Regions from separate parts of the Homo sapiens genome. Here region 1 is linked to region 2. A link means that fine-mapping ties the variant in region 2 to the expression of a gene that starts in the linked region. Tissue or cell type: whole blood. Region 2 holds a variant in brackets; the other region holds the start of a gene. All regions are shown on one strand. Distances are between the middles of the regions. Region 1 holds the start of ZFAT (zinc finger and AT-hook domain containing). Region 2 overlaps ZFAT (zinc finger and AT-hook domain containing).

The links. PIP is the estimated chance that this variant, and not a neighbour inherited with it, causes the effect.
Region 1: it holds the start of ZFAT, and the variant in region 2 is fine-mapped to the expression of ZFAT in whole blood (INTERVAL, PIP above 0.99).

What each region holds. Positions count from the first base shown.
Region 1 is chr8:134,707,417-134,718,812 of GRCh38, reverse strand. ZFAT (zinc finger and AT-hook domain containing) reads left to right here and starts at 5,782. Exons shown (of 16, transcript NM_020863.4): 1 at 5,782-5,968. The coding sequence starts at 5,950. RefSeq lists enhancers at 5,771-5,950, 8,702-9,385.
Region 2 is chr8:134,637,888-134,649,283 of GRCh38, reverse strand. All of the region lies in intron 2 of ZFAT (zinc finger and AT-hook domain containing), which reads left to right. Among named protein-coding and RNA genes, the nearest start is that of ZFAT, 69 kb to the left of the region's middle. The variant G/A (reference allele first, on the strand shown) is at 7,187.

The DNA of each region.
Region 1 (11,396 bases), 70 kb before region 2:
CATCCAAAGCAGTGCTGTTTATGTGACAGCTACAAATAAATGCTTAATTACGTATTATTCCTTTTCCTCAATCCCTTACTGCATCTTTCCCTCCCTCTACCCCTTATCCTTTTCTTCAACAACGGTTTATTGGGTCCCAGCTGTGCACCCAACAGTGCTAGGCTCTGGTAGCTCTCCTGGTTTTCCGTTTCTTTGCTGGGATCCAAATCCCACTCCCTGCCCCTTTTTTCATGGCCCTGTTACTCTTATTCATAGTTGATTTAAAGAAAATTGGTTATAAATATAGTCACCCTTTTCCTAAACTATTTTTTTTCTTTGAGACAGGTCTTAATCTGTCGCCCAGGCTGGAGTGAATGGCGTGATCTCGGCTCACTGCAACCTCCACCTCCTGGGTTCAAGCAATTCTCCTGCCTCAGCCTCCCAAGTAGCTGGGATTACAGGTGCATGCTACCACACCCAGCTAATGTTTTATATTTTTGGTAGAGTTGGGGCTTCATCATTTTGGCCATGCTGCTCTTGAACTCCTGACCTTGTGATCCTCCTGCCTCGGCCTCCCAAAGTGCTGGAATTACAGGTGTGAACCACTGCACCCGGCCTTTCCTAAACGATTTAAATACAACTGATAAATCAAAACTTAAAACTTTCAAAATAAAATTTTCCTAAACATTTACACAGTCAAATTATCTTGTTTCAATGTAACTGTCGAATGTAACTTCGAAATGCTTCAAATACCTTAAAATTTAACACAAAAGTTTTTACTGCACCATACCTAAACCTACTGCACCCATACCTTAACTTTGTAAAAACAGTTGTTATTACACTGGACATGGAGGCTCATGCCTGTAATCCCAACACTTTGGGAGGCTGAGGTGGGCAGATCACTTGAGGTCAGGAGTTCAAGACCAGCCTGGCCAACATGGTAAAACTCCTTCTCTACTAAAAATACAAAAATTGGCTGGGCATGGTGGCAAGCGCTTGTAATCCCAATTACTTGAGAGTCTGAGGCAGGAGGCCTGAATCCTGGAGGCGGAGGTTGCGGTGGGTTGAGATCTCACCACTGCACTCTGGCCTGGGTGACAGAGGCGGATCACGAGGTCAGGAGATGGAGACCATCCTGGCTAACATGGTGAAACCCCGTCTCTACTAAAAATACAAAAAAAAAATTAGCCGGGTGTGGTGGTGGGCGCCTGTAGTCCCAGCTACTCGGAAGGCTGAGCAGGAGAATGGCATGAACCCAGGAGGCAGAGCTTGCAGTGAGCCGAGATGGCACAACTGCACTCCAGCCTGGGCGACAGAGTGAGACTCCGTCTCAAAAAAAAAAAAAAAAAAAAAAAAAAAAAAAAAAAGAGTTGTTATTGACTTGACCAATTTCTTTGTCATCTCTACAAAACATATTTTTATACTTTTTCAGGACTGCCCTTATTGGACCACAGAGAGAAAGATGATCTCCTTCCCAGGTGCACTGAGTGGCAGCCTTGGGCCTGGACTGGTGGGTTCTTGGTGGCAGCAGGCATTTGCTGGTGGGGGCTCCCTCAGACCATTTTCAACTATTAAGTCAAGAGGACTTACAGCAAGTTCTTGCAATCTTCACTCCCATGTGCATGAAGTCTTGGGTCCATGATGTTCTGCCACAGTTTACAATGACCTTCATTATGCATCATTAGCATTTCATTAACATTAGCAGGGCCATATAGCAGTTTAATCTATCAGCTACTCCCTTAGGACATCTGGCTAATCCATTAACTTCCAACATAAATTATTGAACCCCCCTTTTAGCTGGTTATTTATGAGACCACTGGTCCTGACCTGCCCTTCCTGGTTTTGGCATGGTTCCTAGTCTTCTGGAAGTCTTTGACTTACTCTTAGTAAACTTATCTGCCCCTCGAAACTTACACAAATATACCATTTCATAAACAGACATACAGAACTTCAAGTAAGAAATAGGACCCCATATCTACCAAACCTGTCTCTTTACTAAAATATCCTATTTTGACCCTTTCTTTGAATTGTAACTAGTTTTGTAATTACACAGTTATATGTCTATTTTTGCATATACAATGTTAACTTTTTATCAGTAAAGCCTCATGGCTCAACTTGTAGATCAACAACCATAGATCTACAGTTGTTGTGATATGCAAATTGTCACTGCCTCTTCCTTTGTCCTTTCAGCACTAACCCAGCATTTTTGGAAGGAACCTGGTTTTCTGAGAATAGCAATATGTTTCAGGCCATTCTGATGTTCCCTTACTCCCACACATGGAATTAGCTTCTTTGAAGGGGCCCTGGCTACTGCTAATGAAAACCACTCCGGAGATTAATACTTGGGTACTGAGAGTACACACAGGTGTGCACAGGCAGACCGGGGATGTGATGGCACTCCATGGCCACTGGAAAGACAGGTGGAAAAGATGCTGTTTCCTAATCTTGTAATTATGTTCATAGTGAGATTGCTCATATAGTTCTAGCATTACTACATCCTTCTCTTTTATATGATTTTTAAGTGGATTATTTTCTACAATGTGCCTATTTAGATTTTTAACTGTTAACCCAAACTGATTATTCCCACCTCTGATTTTATCATTTTATAGATATATATGTGTGTGTGCATACATATGCATATATATATATATGTGTGTGTGTGTGCATATATACATATATATATATATATAAATAAATTTTAGGGACAGGGTCTTGCTTTGTTGCTGCCCAGGTTGGAGGAGTGCAGTGGCATGATCACAGCTTATTGCAGCCTTGAGCTCCTGGGCTCAAGCAATCCTCCAGCCTTGGCCTCCCATAGTGTTAGGATTACAGGCATGAGCCACCATGCCCAGCCAAGATCCATTATTTTGAGGTCGCCTGTATGTATCCTTTATCAAAACCTTCTTTCAAGAAAGCATCCTGTGAAATTATGTTCCTAAATTATTGTTTTCATGTAAATGTCTATTTCTCATAAAGATATTGGATATAATGATAAAATTATTGACACGAATATATTCAGTTGTGCAAATTATATTTCTTATATAACTAAATACCATTTCATGTCGATAAATTTATTGACACAAATTAATTCACATACTAGCTTCAAGAGGCCAACTGCCACCAGTGGTCAGCTGGGAAGCCGCTCTCTTCTAGGAACCATCACCGAGGCAGCTTGCCATTAATTATATACTTTCGAGTGATTTACATCCAATTCCACAAATGTGTCTTCATTAATTGAAGGCATTCTGAAATATTACTGGCAAATAGAAAGAATAGAGATGTTTGCTGATTGAAAATGTGCAAATCACATAGTAAGGCCGTGGAAGAGCCAGCTGTGGACTCATCTCTCCATTTACGAACCTGGATTCCCCCACAGAAAGGGGCCATCTCTTAGTCATTTCCATCTGCCTATGGCCAGGACAGTTTCCAGTAATAATAGGTGCTCAGTAACTCTTCTCTGAATGATGAATGGGTAGGAGGAAGAAAATGCCATGGGAATAGTGGAGAAAATCATAGCTTTCCAAATAATTAACCCAGAACCATCATCCACAGTCCACAATTTCTTCTTTTAATTTGTCTTCAGCAGTCTGAGGTAATTGGGTTTTGAGACAAATTTTAAATTGTTTCATTTCCAAAATTCGTTTGGTCACAACATCTAGGAGCAATCCATCTGCTAATCAATAAACAACATTTAAACGCTGCTGTGAGAAAGGCAAACCGGCACAAAACCAATACTGTCAGCAACCCAGAACAACTCTAATTTCCTGACAGAAATCGATTCACAGCAAAATAATGATTATTGTAAATATTTATAGTTCTAAAAGGAAACGCTCATCAATGCAGCTTTTTGAGCAGTTCATTTCCAAATAAAGATTCTGATGGGCCCCACCTAGCCATGTATCTTGTGGTGGAGGACGTGGTGGCTGTGAAGCGACTCTGTGGCTGTCTTGGAACTGGCTCTCTTGGAGGCTCTCCTGGAGGCCTGGGGGGCAGTTTGGGTACATTTTAGATGTGGTGGGGAGAGGAACACTGGGCATGGAGAGGCGAGATCCACACCTGGCTCTTCACTATTTTGCTGTGTAATCTCAGAAAGCCATTTGACCACTCTGAACATTCCATTTTCTCATCTGGAAAAGGACAATAATCATATTGCCCAACTTAACCTTCCAGATTGCGAGGATGAAATGAAGAAGGGGGAGGCTATATCTGTGAGCATATATTTAACAGACTGGACAACTTTAGGGTCTTTTCATGGTTCCGTATTTCCCAAGAACAGGGTTAAGGAGCAGGCGGGCAGTCTCCTGAGAAATCAGATGAGTCATCCTGAAGCTCAATGCCCAAGGGAGTTTTCCTCCTAAAAAATAAGTGACCCCAGAACGAAGTGTTCATTCAGTAATATGACTATGCAACAGGCGCTGAGAAAACAAGATGAAAAGGACCTATAAGGGCTGCTCAGGAAGCTCAGTCTAGTGAGGATGAACGCTGTGCAAACAGAGAAGTGGGGGATGGAGCTAGGCCAGTGAGACCAGAGCTGTGGGAACATGAAGTGTGAACTTCAGGGCTGTCCGAGAATTTCATGTTGAGCAGCAACCAAAGAGGGTTATTCCAGGAAAAGAAGAACAGGCAAAGACTAGCATTTCAGGGGAACCATGAACACAAATCAGTTTCCCAAACTTCAGTCTCCTGAAGTCTGCTTTTACACTTTTTTTTTTTGGGGGGGGGGGGGCATGTCTTTGCAGCATGTACACCATTTTAAGTTGACTGATTTTTGAAAATGTAAACGAACAATTTAAAAACTTTATATGACTACTGTAAGTGAAAAACGTTATTTGTCATGAACAGAAAATGACCTTAGAACATGGACCACATCAACTCATTACTCATGAAATAAATAACTGTCAGGCTCAGTTTGTTTCTGAGGCTAACGGGGTGACCATTGACAGAGGTAAGGGAGGGAGATAATGACAGATAGGAATGGATGCTACGTAGAAAATATGAAGTGTCTTGGAGGGTTACTTTAGATGGGTTTCGGGGGGTGAGGGTTAGGGGCTGGAAGATATCATTTGAGCCGAGGACTACAGTGTTGGAGCTAAACACCTTAACATCAAAACCAAAAACAAAGTCATTAAATTTCCACCAGACTCAGCTGCCTGCCGAAGGCTGTGCCACAAGCAGAGAAATGAATGAGCGGGTGTTGGAGGCGCGCACATCCAGTGCAGACTTGTTGTGGGACAAAAAGAGACGAGAGAGGAGGAAGTCGCCTTGTCACGTGTGATCGTAGGCCGCTCAGTGCTCTGTAGCCCCTAAAACCCAGCCGGGTGGCCCAAAGGAAAGCACCCCACGCTTCGGGAAACGCCGCAGCTTTGAGCGGGATGCAGGTTGGGAGCACCCCGATGGACACATCAGTAAACTGAGAGCAAGAAAAGTTAATTCGCTGCCCCAAGTTAGGTAGTGAGAGGTAGAGCTGGGACACGAAGCGCACCCAGAACTCTCCTTGCACGCCCAGCTCGGCGGCCCCACATGCCGCGGGTCTAGGGTCGCGCTAGCAGAGGCCTGGCACAACCGCCAGACTCCTGACCCCGAGATCCGCGCTCCGGACCTCCCGAGGGCCCCTCCCTGGGCGTGGCTCAAAACGCGGCGCAGCGGAATCCGTGAAGTGGGATAAAAAGCACGGCCTCCGACTGCGAGCATGCGCGTTAGCTCGGCCCTGCCGGGCCGCGCTCGGCGCCGGGGGAGGGTCACCCGAAGCGGACGTCCGCTACGCAGGCGTCTGCGCCCCGTGGGGAGGAGGGCGAAGACTCCATCCGCCATGTTGGATGCCGCAGATTCGCCATAACCTCGCCGGCTCTTTTCTTAAAAAAATAAAAATAAAAAGCGAAGCGTCAGCAGGGCGCCCCGCCCCCTCGGTCGGCACGGGAGGGGGCCCGGAAGAGCCCGAGGCTTTTTTTTCCTCCGCGGTGGGGCGTTGCCATGGAGACGCGGGCGGCAGGTGAGCCGGGCTGGGGGTTGGGGTGAGACGGGGTGGGGGTGGGGCGCGGCGCGGCGCGCGGAAAGCCGTTTCGAGCGTCGAGTCGGGAAGCAGTGCGCCGGCCGCCGGCCGCCGGCCGCCGGCCGCGGAGGGATCCGGGTCTGGGGAGGAGAGCGAACGTAGTTGCGTTCTGCGGCTCACGTTCAGTCGCTGGGGTATCCCGCCGCAAAAAAAAAAAAAAAGCAAGGCGGGAGCGAGTGGGAGAGCATGCGCCCGGCCGTTTCCACGGCAATGGGTGGCGTTGGGGCGCGGGCCAGCGACGGAACGCAGTGGGCGCGAGGTTCGAATCCCGGCGATGCCAGCTCTTTGACTGGACCTTGGCGGGGCTTCCTTCTTGCCTGGCCTCGGATTCCTCCTTGGCGAAATGAGTACCTCCTGCAGGCTTCCCGGCCGCCGGCTGGACCTAATAGAGTGACAGATCTTCCACTTGACACCCGGTGCAAGTCATTTAACCTTGAGCTTGGGGTCCTTCACCTGTAATTACCACAAGCTTCCACATTTGGGCACTGACTTAACACGTTTTGCTGCTCAGCTCTCTTGAGAACTCTAATTTGTAGGTCATTTATTATGAGGAACAGAAGTTCAGAGAGGTCAACTTTACACAGTTTAAAAACGACAGAGCTGGGGCTTTAAAAATTAACTTCCTCCAACTTGGGCTAAAATCCAAACTCCTGCGTGCTCGCCTGACTTGTACCTCCATCTTCTTAGAATAGGGCTTGGCTCATGTAAGTGTTCACTATATACTTAGTGAATGAAAGAACGAACGCGCTAACTGATCACGCCTGCCCATCAGTCTGGCTTTTTTTGCTGGAGTCCAAGTGACCTTTTGGAGATGCCCCGCACAGCTGCCTCTCACCAGCTTTATCTTCCGAGCCTACCAGTTCATCTACTGAAACATCTGTAGTGTGTGTCCCCATGCTGAAGGAAGTAGCGTGTCCTACCTCTAACCCCCAGGGACACCTTTCCTGACTTTAGTTCAAATAACAGCTTTGCAAGGATCCCCTCTGCACGCCAGGCAGGGGTAAAGAGCAGTCCCAGTCGTAGTCCTGCCTCCACCTGCTGCGGTGCTAGATGTGGGAGAATGTGTCCTGGAGTGACAGAGTGGGCCCAGAGCCGAATATTGGGTCAGGAGACCCGAACTATATCAGGCGTGCTTTTTTTTAATTTAATTTTTTTAATTTTTTGGGACAGAGTCCCGCACTATCACTCAGGCCGGGGTGCAATGGTGCAATCTCGGGTCACTGCAACCTCTGCCTCCCGCCCTCAGGTAAACCTCCCGCCTCAGCCTGCCAAGTAGCTGTGACCACAGGTGCGCTGATTAGCTGTGGTGCCCAGCTGATTCAGGTGTGCTGTCTTAGGTTAGCCTAAAATGAGCACCGGAGAGACTTGCTCTCCAAATACAGGTTGAGCATCCCTAATCCAAAAATCCGAAATCGGAAATGCTCCAAAGTCTGAAACTTTGAGCACTGACATGAGGCCACAGTGGAAAATTTTCTATCTGACCTCGTGAAGGTTCTCAGCAGAAATGCAGTTCCATAGCCGGGCGCAGTAGCTCACGCCTGTAATCCCAGCACTCTGGGAGTCTGAGGCGGGAGGGTCCCTTGAGTCCAGGAGTTCAAGACCAGCCTGGGCAGTGTAGTGAAACCCCATCTCTATTTTTCTCAAAAAACAAAACAAAACAACAGTTGCACAACTGTAAAGACGATGCTGTTAACACTCAGAAAGAAATGCAGGCTGAACAGCAGACTTAAAGCCAGCCGTTGTTTATTGTTCTGTTGTTTAGCAGCTGATGCATGTGTTCTGGTGATGCTGCTGTGCCGCTTAGGTACCTTGAACACCTTGTTTTTCACTGTATTAATGGTGTGTCATATTTTTTACTGGTAAGGACTTATGTGTAAATAAATGTAAGAAAGTGATTGTCTTATTGGTAGCATAGAAATTCAGAGTCGGGAATGATGGCGATGCCAGACAACCACAGATTGCCCATATGTGTGGCTGAGATAGTGACACCTTTGCTTTCTGATGGTTCATTGTACACTTTGTTTCATGATCAAAATTAAAAATATTGTAAAATTACCTTCAGACTGTGTGTATAAGGTGCACATCAAACATAAATAAATTTCATGTTTAGACTTGGGTCCCATCCTCAGGTTATCTCACTATGTATATGCAAATATTCCAAAATCCAAAAACATCTGGAATTCTAAAACTTCTGGTCCCAAGCATTTTGGATATGGGATCCTGAAACTGTAGTTTATTTGGGAATAATAGGGGATTGCAATTTAGATACATGCGCTATGCTGGATCATAGGTACGTCCAAAGAAGTTGGGGCAAATGGAAACTTTTAAAGACCCAAAAGGGAAGTCCACCTAAGCGGTTTTGAAACAAAGACCATTGGTTTCAGAGGTTTATTGCAGGAGCTGGCATTAGTCCATTGGAGACAGGTGCACCAGGCAAGTGTCCTGTGCAAGTAACAGGCTCTAAGGAATTCCTGGCATAGTTCCTGTCATAGGCATACTTGCATGAGGGCCCTTCCTTCCTATCCTCTGGCTCCATTTTGTTAGAGTTTGACATGAGTGACTCCATTTTGATAAACGTGAAATATCTTTTCGATTGGTGCCTTCCTCCTCCCACGTTGTTGCTTATATAGAGAGAATGAGTTGCCCACTTCTCCACTTCTGGAATTTACCCAAGAGTTTTAAAAAAGAACCCTGGACATATGTTGAAGTTTCCTTCAATTTCCAGCTGTACCAAATGAGAAAAGATCATATTTTAAAATGTGTTACTGTCAACTCATGGTCAGCTAATTTCTGAAAAGAGTTTCCTGTTTTGGTTAATTTAGGAAAGGGAGTACAATGAATGATAAGGAGGTGGAGTTGCATGTGGTCTACAGGGCACAGCTGTAGGTGGCAAATGAGCTGAGATGGTCATTGTGTGAATTGGAGCCGTCTTACCGCAGTGCTCCCTTCTCAGTGGGCTTCTCATTTGCCTCCGGTGAAAGGATTCCTGTTTCTTTTCTCCCCATACCTTGCAATTTACATAACTTTTGCAAGATAGCTATTGTTAAGTAGAATTAAGCTCTTGCCTAGAGCAAGGGCAGTCAAGAATCAGATATATTAAAAAGTCTCCTTAATTGCATTTCCCTTTGTAGATAGTTTCAAGCATACAGCCTCTGAAAAACTCTGCACCAAGATGGGCTGATTTAATTACGTAAAAGAGATTTAGCCTAGAGTTAAGTTTTCCCTCTCTTCTCAGCTGTTTACCCTGTTAAAGTTTCACTGATTTGCAATTTCTCAAGGGCAGGCATCAACTTTAAGGGCTGGAACATTTAGGAGGGTAGAAAGAGCACGTGCTCTGGCTCCAGAGATCTGCCTCTCACCAGATTCCTGACCTAAGGGAAGTCACAGAACCCTTGGGACCCCAGTCCCTTCACCGGCAAAGGAGACACAGTCCTGCCACAGGTGGCTGCTGATGGCATTCAGGAAATGGGGTTTGTCTCTTCCCTTCCCAGAACCAGACTTCCCAGTGTACAGCTCAGTACATTGTCATCCACTCTCTTCTTGAAAGCATTTGTGGATGGAAAGGCAGAGACTCCCAGGCTCAGGCCACCCTCCCACATCAGCCTCCTGAATAGCTGGGACTACAGGGGTGCACCACCACACCTGGCTAATTTTTGTATTTTTTGTAGAGATGGGGTGTCACCAGGTTGACCAGGCTGGTATTGAACTCAGCCTAAGAGATCCACTGGCCTCGGCCTCCTGAAATGCTAGGATTATAGGCTTGAGTCACTGTGCCCAGCCGAGTAATTTTTTTTAAATAAGTCATTTTTAAAAATTAAATTAAATTAATTTATTGGCACGGAGTTTTGCTCTTTGCCCAGTCTGGAGCACAATGGTGTGATCTTGGCTCACTGCAACCTCTGCCTTCTGGGCTCAAGCGATTCTCCTGCCTCAGCCTCCCAAGTAGCTGGGATTATAAGCATGCGCCACCACGCCTCGCTAATTTTGTACTTTTAGTAGAGGTGGGGTTTCACCATGTTGGTCAGGCTGGTTTCCAACTCCTGACCTCAGGTGATCCGCCTGCCTCAGCCTCCCAAAGTGCCAGTATTACAGACGTGAGCCGCTGTGCCTGGCCGAGTAATTTTTTTTTAAAAGAGAAAAGAAAAAGCAGAGCAAAACAAAATAGACATTTTAAACATCTTACAGATTTAAAGTTGCCTCCTTTTTTTTCAAGGAACACAAAATATATAGATGATTGAGTTTACTTATAAAGATAATGCTTGGCATATTTATAGAAAAACACGGACTTAAAATTGGGTAACATAATCTTTTTTTAAATTAAAAAAACTGTAACGACATATTTGTTTCTTTACGGGGTATAATGTGATGTTATGATTTATGAGTATAATGTGGAATAATTAAATCAAGCTAATTAACATATCCATCAGCTCAAATAGTTATCATTTTGTGGTAAGTAAACATTTAAAATTTACTCTTAGCAAATTTGAAATGTACGTTATTACTGTATTCACCATGCTGTGCAATATGTCTCAAAGAAAAAAACGATTCCTCTTGTCTAATTGAGGCTTTGTAGCCTTTGATCATCATTTCTTCCTACACCTTCAGGCTCTGGTACCCACCATTCTACTCTCTGCTTCTTTGAGCTCCATTGTTTTAGAGTTCACATGTAAGAGAAAACATGCAGTGTTTGTCCTTCTGTGCTGGCATATTTTACTTAGGACAGTGTTCTCCAGTTTCATCCATGTTGTCACAAACGACAACATTTCTTTTTTACAGCTGAATAATATTCCGTTGTGTATATGTCCCACATTAAAAAAATCATTCATGTGTTGTTGGCCACTGAGGCCGATTCCATACTTGACTATTGTGAATAGCACAACAGTGAACATGGTTCAGTCATTCCTTTCAATATACTGGTTTCAAATCTTTTGAGTTATTTTAAATCATGTAATACATGGAGCTGCAAAAGGTGGAACTCTGGAATCGGATGCCTTTGTGTTCAACACAGTCTGATCAAGGCAGGATGGGTGGGGTAGGGACCTGGCCTTAGAGGATGCCAGTGGAAGCTGCGGGTTGTCTGAATAAGAAAGGGGCAGCATCCCATAGTGGGCAGTGGGGGAAAAGAGGACCAGCTCAGCCATGGGACCTGGAGCCAAGGACCAGGAGAGCTTGGGGTGTCCTGGCATTGCTGGAGGGCATTTTAATTCAGCCCCAAGACTTCTTGTAGGGCTCTAACTGGCTTCTTTCTTAGTGTTAGATATTCTCCTTGTGTCCCTGCTGGTGGGCCTCTTCTTCAGGAGTGGCTACCATTTCTCTGCCCCTTAGGGTTATTATTATTGCTTATTAATTTTTTTTTTACTATTAGGCT
Region 2 (11,396 bases):
TGGAAATGATGAGTGGACATTCTTGTTCTGATACTATCTTAGGAAGAAAGTATCCAGTCTTTTACCATTAAGTATGATGGGGTGTGTGTGTGTGTGTGTGTGTGTGTGTGTGTGTGTGAGAGATAGATGTTCTTCATTAGGTTAAGGAAGCTCTTTTTATTCTTGGTTTGTTGAGTGTTGTTTATTTTTTAAATCATAAAATGGTGTTGGATTTTGTCAGATGTTTTTTCTGAGTTTGTTGAGATGACCATGTGGTTTTTTTTCTTATTTGTTGTATTAATATGGTATATTACACTGATGTTTTTACATGCCAGGATGCATCACCCTTGTAACTTTTGGATAGATCTCATTTGGTCATGTTGCATAATCCTTTTGCTGTGCTGCTGGATTCAGTTTCCTAGTATTTTGTTAAACATATTTGCATTTATATTCATAAGAGATATTGGTCTAGAGTCTTTGATGTCTTTGGTTTTGGTTTCAGGGTAATAGTGGCCTCATAGCATGACTTGAGAAGTGTTCCCTCCTCTTCTATTTTTTGGAAAAATTTTTAAGTATTGGTGTTAATTCTTCTTTAAACATTTGGTAGAATTCACCAGTGAGACTATTTGGTCCTGGGCTTTTTATTTTTTCACTGATTCAATCTCTTGTTATAGGTGTATGCATCTTTGCTATTTTTGAATTAGGTTCAGTAGTTTGTCTTTCTAGGGAATTTTCCATTTTGTCTAGATTGTCTAATTTGTTGACATATAATTGTTCTTAATATTCTCTAATAATTATTTTGATTTTTGTAAGATTAAATGGTAATGTTCTCCCTTTCATTATTGATTTTAACAAATTAGGTCTTGCTATTTTTTCTTGGTAAGTTTAGCTGAAGGTTTGGCATTTTCTTAATCTTTGAAAAACATTGGTTTTGTTGATTTTCTCTTTTCTTTTTCTATATTTTATATAATCTCTTTCCATTCTAGGCATTATTATTTCTGTCCTTCTGCTTGTATTGGATTTAGCTTGCTTCTGTTTTTTTTTCTTAGGTTGGAAAGGGTAGGCTATTGATTTGAGATAGTTCTTTTATCTTTCAGATCCTTCTCTCTCTTTCTTTCTCCAGCTTTATTAAGGTATACTTGACAAAATTGTGTAAGTTTACAGTGATGATTTGTTATACATATATATTGTGAAATGATACCACAATCAGGTTAGTTAACACATCTATTACCTCACATAGCTACCATTATTTTTGTATGTACGTGGTGAAAACATTTAAGATATGTCTTAGCAAATTTTAAGTATATAATACAGTGTTGTTAGTTATAGTCATCATGCTTTACCTTAGATTCCCAGGATGCATTGAATCTATAGGTTGCTTTTGTTAGTATGAACATTTTAACAATATTAATTCTTCTGATCCATAAATGTGGGATATCTTTCCATTTATTTGTGTCGTCTTCAATGTCTTTCATTGATATGGTTTTTAGTATACGGATCTTTCACCTTGATTATATTTATGCCTAAGTATTTTTTTCGACGCTATTATAAATGGGATCGTTTTCTTTTTCAGTTGTTTTTGTGTAGAAACACAACAGATCTTTGTATGTTGATTTTGTATCTTGTAACATTTGTAACTTTATACATTATCCAAAAGCTATTAGAAGTATAATCTTTAGGGCTTTCTATATCTAAGATTATGTCATCTACAAACAGAGACAGTTCTACTCCTTCCATTTTACTTTGCATGCTTTGTATTTTTGCTTACCTAACTACTCTGGCTAGGACTTCCAATGCCAGGAAGCATATAAGTGGTGAGAGTAGGCACCCTTGTCCTATTCCTGATCTTAGAGGAGAGCTTTCAGCTTTTCACGTTGATTATTATGTTAGCTCTGGGTCTGTCGTTTGTTGAAGCACATTCCTTTATTATGTTGTGGTACATTCCTTGTTATCTAGTTTTTTGAGAGTTTTTATCATGAAGGGTTGTTGAATTTTGTCAAACTTTTCCCCATACTTATTGAGATGATCATGTATGATTTTTGTCCTTAATTCTATAAATGTTATATATCACATTTATTTATACACATATGTTGAACCAGCCTTGCATCTTAGAGATAACACCCTCGTTATCATGGCGTGTAATTTTTTTAATGTGCTGTTGAATTTGGTTTGTTAGTATTTTTTGAGTATTTTTGTTTATCAGGAATATTGGCCTGTAATTTTCTTTTTTTGTAGTGTCTGTCTAGCTTTGGCCTTACAAAATGAGTTGGGAGGTATTCCCTCCTCTTTAATTTTTTTGAAGAGCTTGAGTAAAACTGGAATTAATTCCTTTTTAAATGTTTGGTAGAGTTCACCAGTGAAACCACCTGGTCCTGGGCTTTTCTTTGTTGGGAGATTTTGATTACTGATTCAGTCTCCTAACTTGTTATTGATCTATTCAGATTTTCTATTTCCTTATGATCCAGTCTTGGTAGATTGTGTGATTCTAGGAATTTATCAGTTTCTTCTAGGTTATCTAGTTGGTTGGCATATAATTGTTGATAGTAGTCTTTTATGATCACTTGTCTTTCTGTGGTGCCAGTTATAATGTGTCCTTTTTTATTCAAAATTTAATTCATTTGTGGCCTCTCTTTTTTTCTCGGTTAGTCTAGCTAAGGGTTTCTCAACTGTGTTTATCTTTTCAAACAACAAGCTCTTAGTTTGTTGATCTTTTTTATTCTTTTTCTATTTTGTTTATTTCTGCTCTATTCTATTATTTCCTTCCATCTGCTCACTTTGGGCTTATTTATTCTTCTTTGTCTAATTCCTTGAGTTGTAAAATTATGTTGTTTATTTGAGATTTTTCTTTTTTTCTAATGTAGGCAATAAACTTTCTTTTTAGAACTGCCTTTGCTACATCCTATAAGTTTTGGTATGTTGTGTTTTTGTTTTGTTCATCTCAAAGTATTTCTAATTTCCCTTATGATTTCCTTTTTGGCCCAATGGCTATTTAAGAGTACCATTTAATTTTCATAAATTTTTGAATTTCCCAAATTTCTTCCTTTTTATTTCTAATTTAATTCCACATACTTGAATGATTTCCATTCTTTTTTCTTTGAGATGGGGTTTCGCTCTTTCGCCCAGGCTGGAGTGCAGTGGCGTGATCTCGGCTCACTGCAACCTCCGCCTTCCAGTTTCAAGCGATTCTCCTGCCTCAGCCTCCTGAGTAGCTAGGACTACAGGCGCCCGCCACCACGCCCGGCTAATTTTTCTATTTTTTTTTTTAAGTAGAGACGGTGTTTCACTGTGTTGGCCAGGATGGTTCTCAAACTCCTGACCTTGTGATCCACCCGCCTCGGCCTCCCAAAGTGCTGGGATTACAGGCGTGAGCCACTGCGCCTGGCTCAGTTCTTTTAAATTTATAGAGACTTAACTTATGGCCTAAAATGTTGTCTGTTTTGGAGAATTTTTCATGTGGACTTGAGAATACTTTGTATTCTGCTGTTGCTGGGTGGCATGTTCGGTATATGTATTAGAATTTGTTGGTTTATAGGGTTATTCACATCTATTTCCTGGCTGATGCCCAGATTTTATAATTGAGGAATATGTGGCTTAGAGACTCAGAGGAGTTAAAACAGCATGTTCAAGATTACCTATATAGTAAGTGAGAGGGAGGGATTTAGGCCCAGCTGATTTGATGTTATTTGCATGTTATGGTGGTAGTCCAGGAATAATCAAATTCTTATCATTGAGCCTACTTTTATAAATTATTTTCTTTTATTAAATAATTTACTTTTGACAAATTCTTCTTCCGTATGTTTTCTTTTTTGTGTGTGTGTGTATACTAAACTACTTTTGTCTGTGTAGTTTAATTTTAAAAAGCATGAATTCCTTAGTTAAACTCAGCCTCTTAACATGACAAAAAATTTTAAAAAGTCTTTCATTATGAACTTCAAGTCTTTCTTTTTCTCTTTGTGAAAGTTCATAAAATTTGAGGCTTGTAGAGGCTTAGTTTCTCTCTAATGATTTTCATTCAGGTTTAACCTTCACAATTCATTTTAAATTGAGAGCTACTTGAAATGGTTTAATTAAACCTTTAACTGAGTAGTAATTGATTTATTATTTTGGTCTCTCGTTATAACGTGAAGCCACTGAAATCCTCTGGTTTATTTTATAGCCTTTTAATCTTTTTTGCTCATGTAGGAAGTGGTCTGCAGAAAGACCTTTCATTTTCCTTCTCTTTTCCTCATCAAACCTCTGGCTGTGATCCAAGAAGAAATTTCCTAATGGACCAAGCTCATTCTCGTGTGTGTGATCCCATGTGCGTGTGTGTGATCATATCTCTGTGTGTATGTGTATGGGTGTGTTTGTGAGTACACAGGTATGTGTGTATATGGGTGTGTTTGTGTGTGTGCATGTGATTGTGTATATAGGCACGTTTGAGTGTGCACGTTGTGTGATTGTGTATATAGATGGTGTGTGAGTGTGCACGTGTGTGATACTGTATATGTGCGCATGCGAGTGTGCATGTGTGTGATTGCATATCTGGGCACATTGTGAGTATACATGTGTGTGTGATTGTGAATATGGGCACGTTTGTGAGTGTGCTGTGTGTCGTGGGCATATGTGTAAGTGCACGTGTGTGTGGTTGTGGGCACATGTGTAAGTGCACGTTTGTGTGTGAGATTGTGTATACGGTACATTTGGGAGTGTGCACATGTGTATGTGGTTGTGTACATGGGTTGTGTATGTGGTTGTGTACGTGTGTGAGTGTGCATGTGTGTGTGGTTGTATAGGTGCTTGTGTATGTGTGTATGATTGTGTATATGGATATGTGTGTGCACGTGTATGATTTTGTATATGGGTGTGTATGAGCATGTGTGTGTGAGAGTGTGTGTGCACACGCATGCATTCATTTATCCTGATGGAGGCTGGGGCAATTGAGGAAGAATGTACATGGGTCTCCCGAGAGCCTCGTTTTGGCTCTCCCATTTTCTCTCTGATTTCAGACCCTCTGCAGGAATTCTTCCTTTCTTATCTTTCCTCTCCTCTCCCCTCCCCCTTTCCATCTCTTTAGTCATTAACTGTTTGTTGGGTGCCTGCTGTATGTCTGGGTGCTGTGCTAGGTGCTGGGGCTGCAGGAGGGGCCCACAGGCTGTTGACTCTGGCCCCCTAGCTGGTGAATGGCAAATAGGCAAAAAGGCAGTTTCAGTGCAGCAGGGCGAGTGCCTCTGCGCGGTTAAGTTCAGGCTGCTAAAGACGTCCTCTAATGTGAGGGTAAAAGGAGGCTTCCCAGGGGAAGTTGATGTCTATGTTTAAATCTGTATGTTGTCTCTTCTGGGCATTTACCACAAATCCAGTCATTCTGAGTGCATGTACGAATGTTGAGCACTCTGATCTGCCCTGGTCAGCAGCGCAGTGTAGTGGAAAGGGCACACGTCTTGGAATCAGACTTAGGCTCCATTCCTGGAGCTTTCATGTGATTGCTGGAGCCTTGGCTGGCACATAGGGACCTTTGTGCAGATTACAAAAGGCGCCCCCATTCTGAGGGGATGAGCTAGTAACAGGAGCTGTTTCTGGGTGAACAAACATAAAACGTGCTCAGGGCTGATGCAGCCAGTGCCGGAGCACACAGCTTGGCTAGTGGAATTTGGCCCTGGTAAGTCTTCAATCACCGCCTCACACAGGGTACAGCCTGCACCACAGCCTTGAGGCTCTGCTGGGGACTTAGACAAGTGGCATGGCTGTGACTTTTGTCACCTGTCAAAGAGAGATAAGATACTGACCTTTTTCATAGGTTCTGAGACAAGTGCATGTTCATACATGATGCCTTAGTCCATAGTGACTGCCTGTTAGACATTGTACCCTCCTGTACCTTACATCCGTGTACTTTCCAGCCCAGGGAGTGGGATCACACTGAAGCTTGTCACTGCATGAGACTATCGTCATTTTCCTGCAGAACTTAGTGAAGAGGTCAAAGTATATTATTTCTGTGCTTAGATATTAATTGAACTGTCCAAAGGACTTGCTATGACATGGGTATGAAGTTCACTGACTTTGAGGCAAACAGGTCTGTATTCAATTCCTGATTCTGCCATTTATTAATTCCCTGACCTTGGAGCAAATAAGTTAATCTTCTTAAGCCTCAGTGACCTCTACTATATGATGGGGATCATACTAATGCCTCCCTTGGGGATTAAATGAGGACGTGCATGTGAAGTGCTTAGCATGGTGCCTGAGATATATGTGCTTAATAATGATTAGTTATCACCATTATTTACGTGGCATTTCCACGATATGGCTGGTAAAAGTACAAGGAGCAAGCTTGGGATGCCTTCAGCCTCCCTGGTGCCTGGCATTGTGGAACAGGATGCAGTCTGTCCCTGCAAAGGGGATGTTGCATTCCTCATAAACCTAAGAGGCTTGTGTTCCCCTATTTATGATAAATAATTCATTGTCTCCCCTATTGCTTCCTGAGCTTTGGAAATAAACGTCAGGGAGATTGACTGTCAGGGCCTTAAAATGTTAGTCTTTCAGGATTTTCCAAAATTCTTGAGTTGGTGTGATTAGAGATTGAGCTGCCCTGTGCGAGTGCTGGGAAGCTGGCCGTATCCAGGGTTTTAGGCATAATAAAATTTGTGTGCCTTTAATTCTACATTGGATTTCCTGGTGTGAGAGCTATTTTAAAATGAAGAACTCAAGGAAAAAATGCGTATTGAGTCAGAATGAATGAGAATGCATGTACATCAAGAAATCACATTATCTAACTGTGGACCAGGTGGGAGGATAATAGTTTCTTAAAAGAGATATTCTAAGTCAGAATCTTAATGACTATGGCCATAATATTAAACAGTTGCCATTTATCAATCATCTCCTGAGTTCTGTGCCCAGCATTGTAATGGATTGCTTTTATCAGTAGTGACTCTATAAAATAGAGGCAGTTTTGTGTTTATTTTTCGCATTGGAAACGGAGGCTCAGGGGAGATTTGAACCCAGGTCGGTCCAGCTCCAAGCCAGCATTCTCTGCACAGCACAGATTGTCTCTATTAAAGTGTGTAGTGCTGACCTTTTCTTACCCATGCTTCAGGGGTATGTGATTCTGCAGATACATTTTTGACTGGGAATAAGGAAACCCAAATTCCAGTTCTGCGTGCTCAGCAGCTGGTTCTGGAAGATGCGCCAAGCCACTTGAACCGTTGTGTCCCTTGTTTCTTCTCCCATTGAGGAC[G/A]TTGTGTTTGCTGCATCCATCTCTTAAGATTTTTATAAGGCTAAAATGAGATAATAGCTGGGAAAGTGCCTTGCAAACTTGAGTGATGCACAAATAAAGGGCTTACGTTATTAAATTGTTGATAATGTTGGGCTATTTTTTCATAGTGTTCACGTTGTGTTTTGATTGAGTTAGAAGTAATCCTTTGGCCGATTCTCTGCCCCTTGCCAGTTTTTGGCCTTGGATCTGCAAGGATGATTTTCTGACTAAGAGGAAGTTGTCCCCAAACTGTGGATTTAGAGCAGAGTTAAGAGGCACTGTGGCTCAGCCCTTTCTTCCTTTTGGAAACTGGGGACACAGGAAATGGCTTCTTTTCCAGATATTTCTTTTTCTATCATCAAACAGTGGATCAGTGTGTACTTATTAATTGTATCTACTCCACATCCAGCTCCGTTCGAGACCCTGTGGGACCCAGGAATTAAAAGGCCAGCTCAGACCTCAGGGTTTGTCATAAAAGGTGGGGAAAAATCGAAACAATCAGGGAGTGGTGTGGGCGCATACACACCCTACGTGTGTGTGGCTCACACTGTAATTCACATCAAGCTGTGGGGGTAGTCATCCTGCTCACTTAGCTGGGGACACCTCATGGAGGAGGCACTGAGGTCTTAACTGGACCGGACATGTTAGGATTTGAACTGGGGCTTGGTCTCTGATTGGTAGTGAAGGAGGTGGTCACAGCTTGGGAGAATAGTACAAGTAAGTGAAAAGAGACGGGGATTCTCTGTGTATATTTGGGGAGGTCTAGAAAATTGCCCTGAGCAGTTAAGGGGGAGGAAGAAGGAAGTGGGGTCACTGAATGTGTGTGTGTGTGCAGGTGTGTGTGTCTGTGTGTGCATATGTGCAGGGTTGGATCACGTGCTAAAGGACCTTGAAGGCCAGGCCTGAGAGTTGTGGGCAAAATCATCCAGAACAATGGAAGGTTCTAGAGTGAGGGAATGACAGATGAGGGATGGAGGCAGAGAAAGCCCAGAGCAGGAGGCTGGAATCTGGACACCGTGTGCAGGCATCTGGGTGGTGAGGTTGCTGTGTGAACAGAGAGGGGATTTACTGGAGAGACATCTTTAGGGCAAAGTCCATAGAGTTTAGTGACAGATTAAATAAAGGAATTCAGAGGGAGGAAGAGGAATTAAAGCTAACTCCATTGAAATGTTTTGATTTAGAGGTTACATGATTTTCCTTGCCCAGTCCCAAGATTCTCAGCTCTGCCATAAAATGCGAGTAGTTGACAGCAGCAACTCATTTTCAGAGCTTAAATTATTCAAGTTCATTCATGAATATTTCATTTTTAGCTAGCTAATTGGTCTTGAGGATCTGAATTATGGATGCAGCAAGCTGGAAGATTAGTTTTGTCACCATCGTGTTTGAGGTTTTCCAAAGCTTTCAGGCCGATTTTATTTTTTCCTTGCCTTGGAATTAATTGTGCATTGCTCATCAGTTTAATTCACCCAGATTTGCTGGCTGCCTGCTGCTCAGGGCACCAGGTTAGGTGCGAGGGGGATAAAAAGTAATCAGGACAGGGACTCTGCCTTCGAGGAGTCTCCAGTCTGGGGGAGTGGAGACTCACGATGTCTGCTGTACCACACGCTGTGCTGTGCTCCAGCAAGTGCAAACACTGTGGCTGTCTGTGCTCCATTGAGTCTGTGTGGAGAAAACACTGGCTACCCCGCAATAGTAAGTTTGCCAAACTCAAGCTTAAGGGCACAGTTCTCCGCAAGACGACCAAGTCTGCCCAAGACTCCTGATACCAGCCACAAGTTTGGAGGGTCTCCTGGACCACCTTTACTTCTTTCTTACTACTACAGATTTGGAAGGTCCCTGCGGCCTCTCTCAGCTTTGATAATTTGCTAGAATAACTCACACAACTCAGGAAAGCCCTGTCCTCATGATTATAATTTGATTATACTCAAAGGATGCAAATCAGAGAGCCAGTTAAAGGGAGAGAGGTGTGTGGGTAAAGTTGCAGACTGGGAAGGTTCTAGACGTGGAGCTTTTGGTCCACCCATGGAGTCCTGAGCAAAGTTACCTCTCTCCCAACTACAACATAGGACATCAGGAGGGACATCCGGGGGCCTAGAAATCACCTCCCTGTAGCCAAGGGCAAAGGCCAGACTTCTCTTTGGGTAAAGTTAATTCTTCACTCACAATCACATCCTCATAGAGTGTTTCAGGGGAGTGGCTTGTGTCTGCGGGATGGCAGAGTCTGTCACTGGGTTTAGACCTGGGCCGCAGGCTTCAGTAAACTCTTAGGCACCCTGTTTCTGGAACTCAGCTGACATGACACGAGGTGGGTGTTTTGTAGCCTCTCTGCTAATTCTGCTTCTCTGATATGAATTGCTGCTTCAGTAGATTGTGCAAGTACACGTTGTTGTGAAGAAGAATAAGGAGAAAAGTTTTAAAGACTCCAAGGGAAATGGTTTCTTACTCTGTACCTTGTATTTCTTTCCTCCCATCTCCCTTGCACACAGGCTGGTTCTCCTGTAAACACAGGCTTTTTTCTCCTTGTTTAAATCTAGGGAGGGCTCCCAGGGCCTTCTGTCCCTTGTTTTATCTGGTTTGCCTTCCTATCATTAAGTACCTTCTTCTTCTTTGTGCTCCCCTGCCCACCATGCCCCAGGGAGATAGAGTGAAGGCAGGAATCTCGCTGGTTGCCTTAGTGCAGGACTCTGGTTTGGATCTTTCAGCCAAGGCTGACCCACTCACCAGTGGCGTTGCAGTTTGGTTGAAGCTCTGTTCCAGCAAGGGCCCTCCTTTCCCAGGAAATCTCTTGCTTCATTCTGGTGCCAGGTTTCCCTGAGGTCTTGGGTACCCCGTACCAAGGCAGGCTTCTTTGTTCAGATTCCCTGTGGTCAGGCTGTTGTGTCCCTGCAGACTCTGCCCCAGACTGTTCTGCCCATCTCTGCTCCCCTTTGCCCCTGTGGCCTCCCTCTCTGATTTGTGAGCACAAGTGACTTACTTAACGGGTCCTCATGGTAATAGCAGTAGATAAAGTGGCTGGTGTCCTACTGTGCAGAGCAACAGCTTTAGAGAGAGCAGGAAGGGACCTGAGAGACATTCTACAGATGCACGTGTACCCAAGATGGTGCCAGAATCTAGTACTCCTTCCTCTACCCCAATGTTCAGGTTCAAAGAGGGTTGCTGAAGTGCCACTCCTCTGCCAGACAGATGACTGGCATTGGGGATGTCAGCCAGGCTGCTGGCGGCTCTCTGCTTGGTCTCGCTCAGGGACATCTCCTAAGTCTCATCGTTGAAGACCACACCCCTCCACCTTCACACAACTGGATGAGATGCTCTGCTCCCTGCCCTGCTCACCCATCTTTTTTTTTTTTTATTTGAGATGGAGTCTCGCTCTGTTGCCCAGGCTGGAGTGCAGTAGTGTGATCTCAGCTTACTACAAGCTCTGCCTCCCAGTTCACGCCATTCTCCTGCCTCAGCCTCCTGAGTAGCTGGGACTACAGGTGCCCGCCACCACGCCTGGTTAATGTTTTTTTTTTTTGTTTTGTTTTTTTTTTGTATTTTTAGTAGAGACAGAGTTTCACCATGTTAGCCAGGATAGTCTCGATCTCCTGACCTCGTGATCCGCCCACCTCGGCCTCCCAAAGTGCTGGGATTACAGGCGTGAGCCACCGCGCCTGGCCCCCGCTCACCCCTCTTAATTCCCACCTTCATTCCGGAGATGAATGCCTTAAAAATTAACACTAATTGAGAAGAAACACAAGTTGTAAAATGATTTTAAACTTGCTCTAAAGCAGCTGTGATCATGCCATTGAAAATCACTAGGTCGCTAGGAAACTGGAAAAATATTGTTATTGTCTTTAGTGCTATAATTTGTGGCTTTAGATTGTAATTATTTTTTCTTTTTCTTGCCAGGACAATTTGACTCTAATAATTATGACTCCTTGAAATAATCTGAATAGTTTTGTAACTCATTAAGGGCATGACAAGCTCAGCAGCCTTTGAGAACGCTTTGCAAAGGAGTCCCTAAGCAGTTTCTGAGAACTGGATTTCAGTGGAAATGGTGCTTAACAAGGGGCAGGATTTGTGAACGGGGGGTTGACAGCCGCAACTTAAAATCCTGTCAGCATTGCTGGAGAAAGATGTACAGCGATGCTGATAAACTGATGGTCTTGAATCAGAACATTAGAAAATTGATTACCCATTAGTACACAGATGC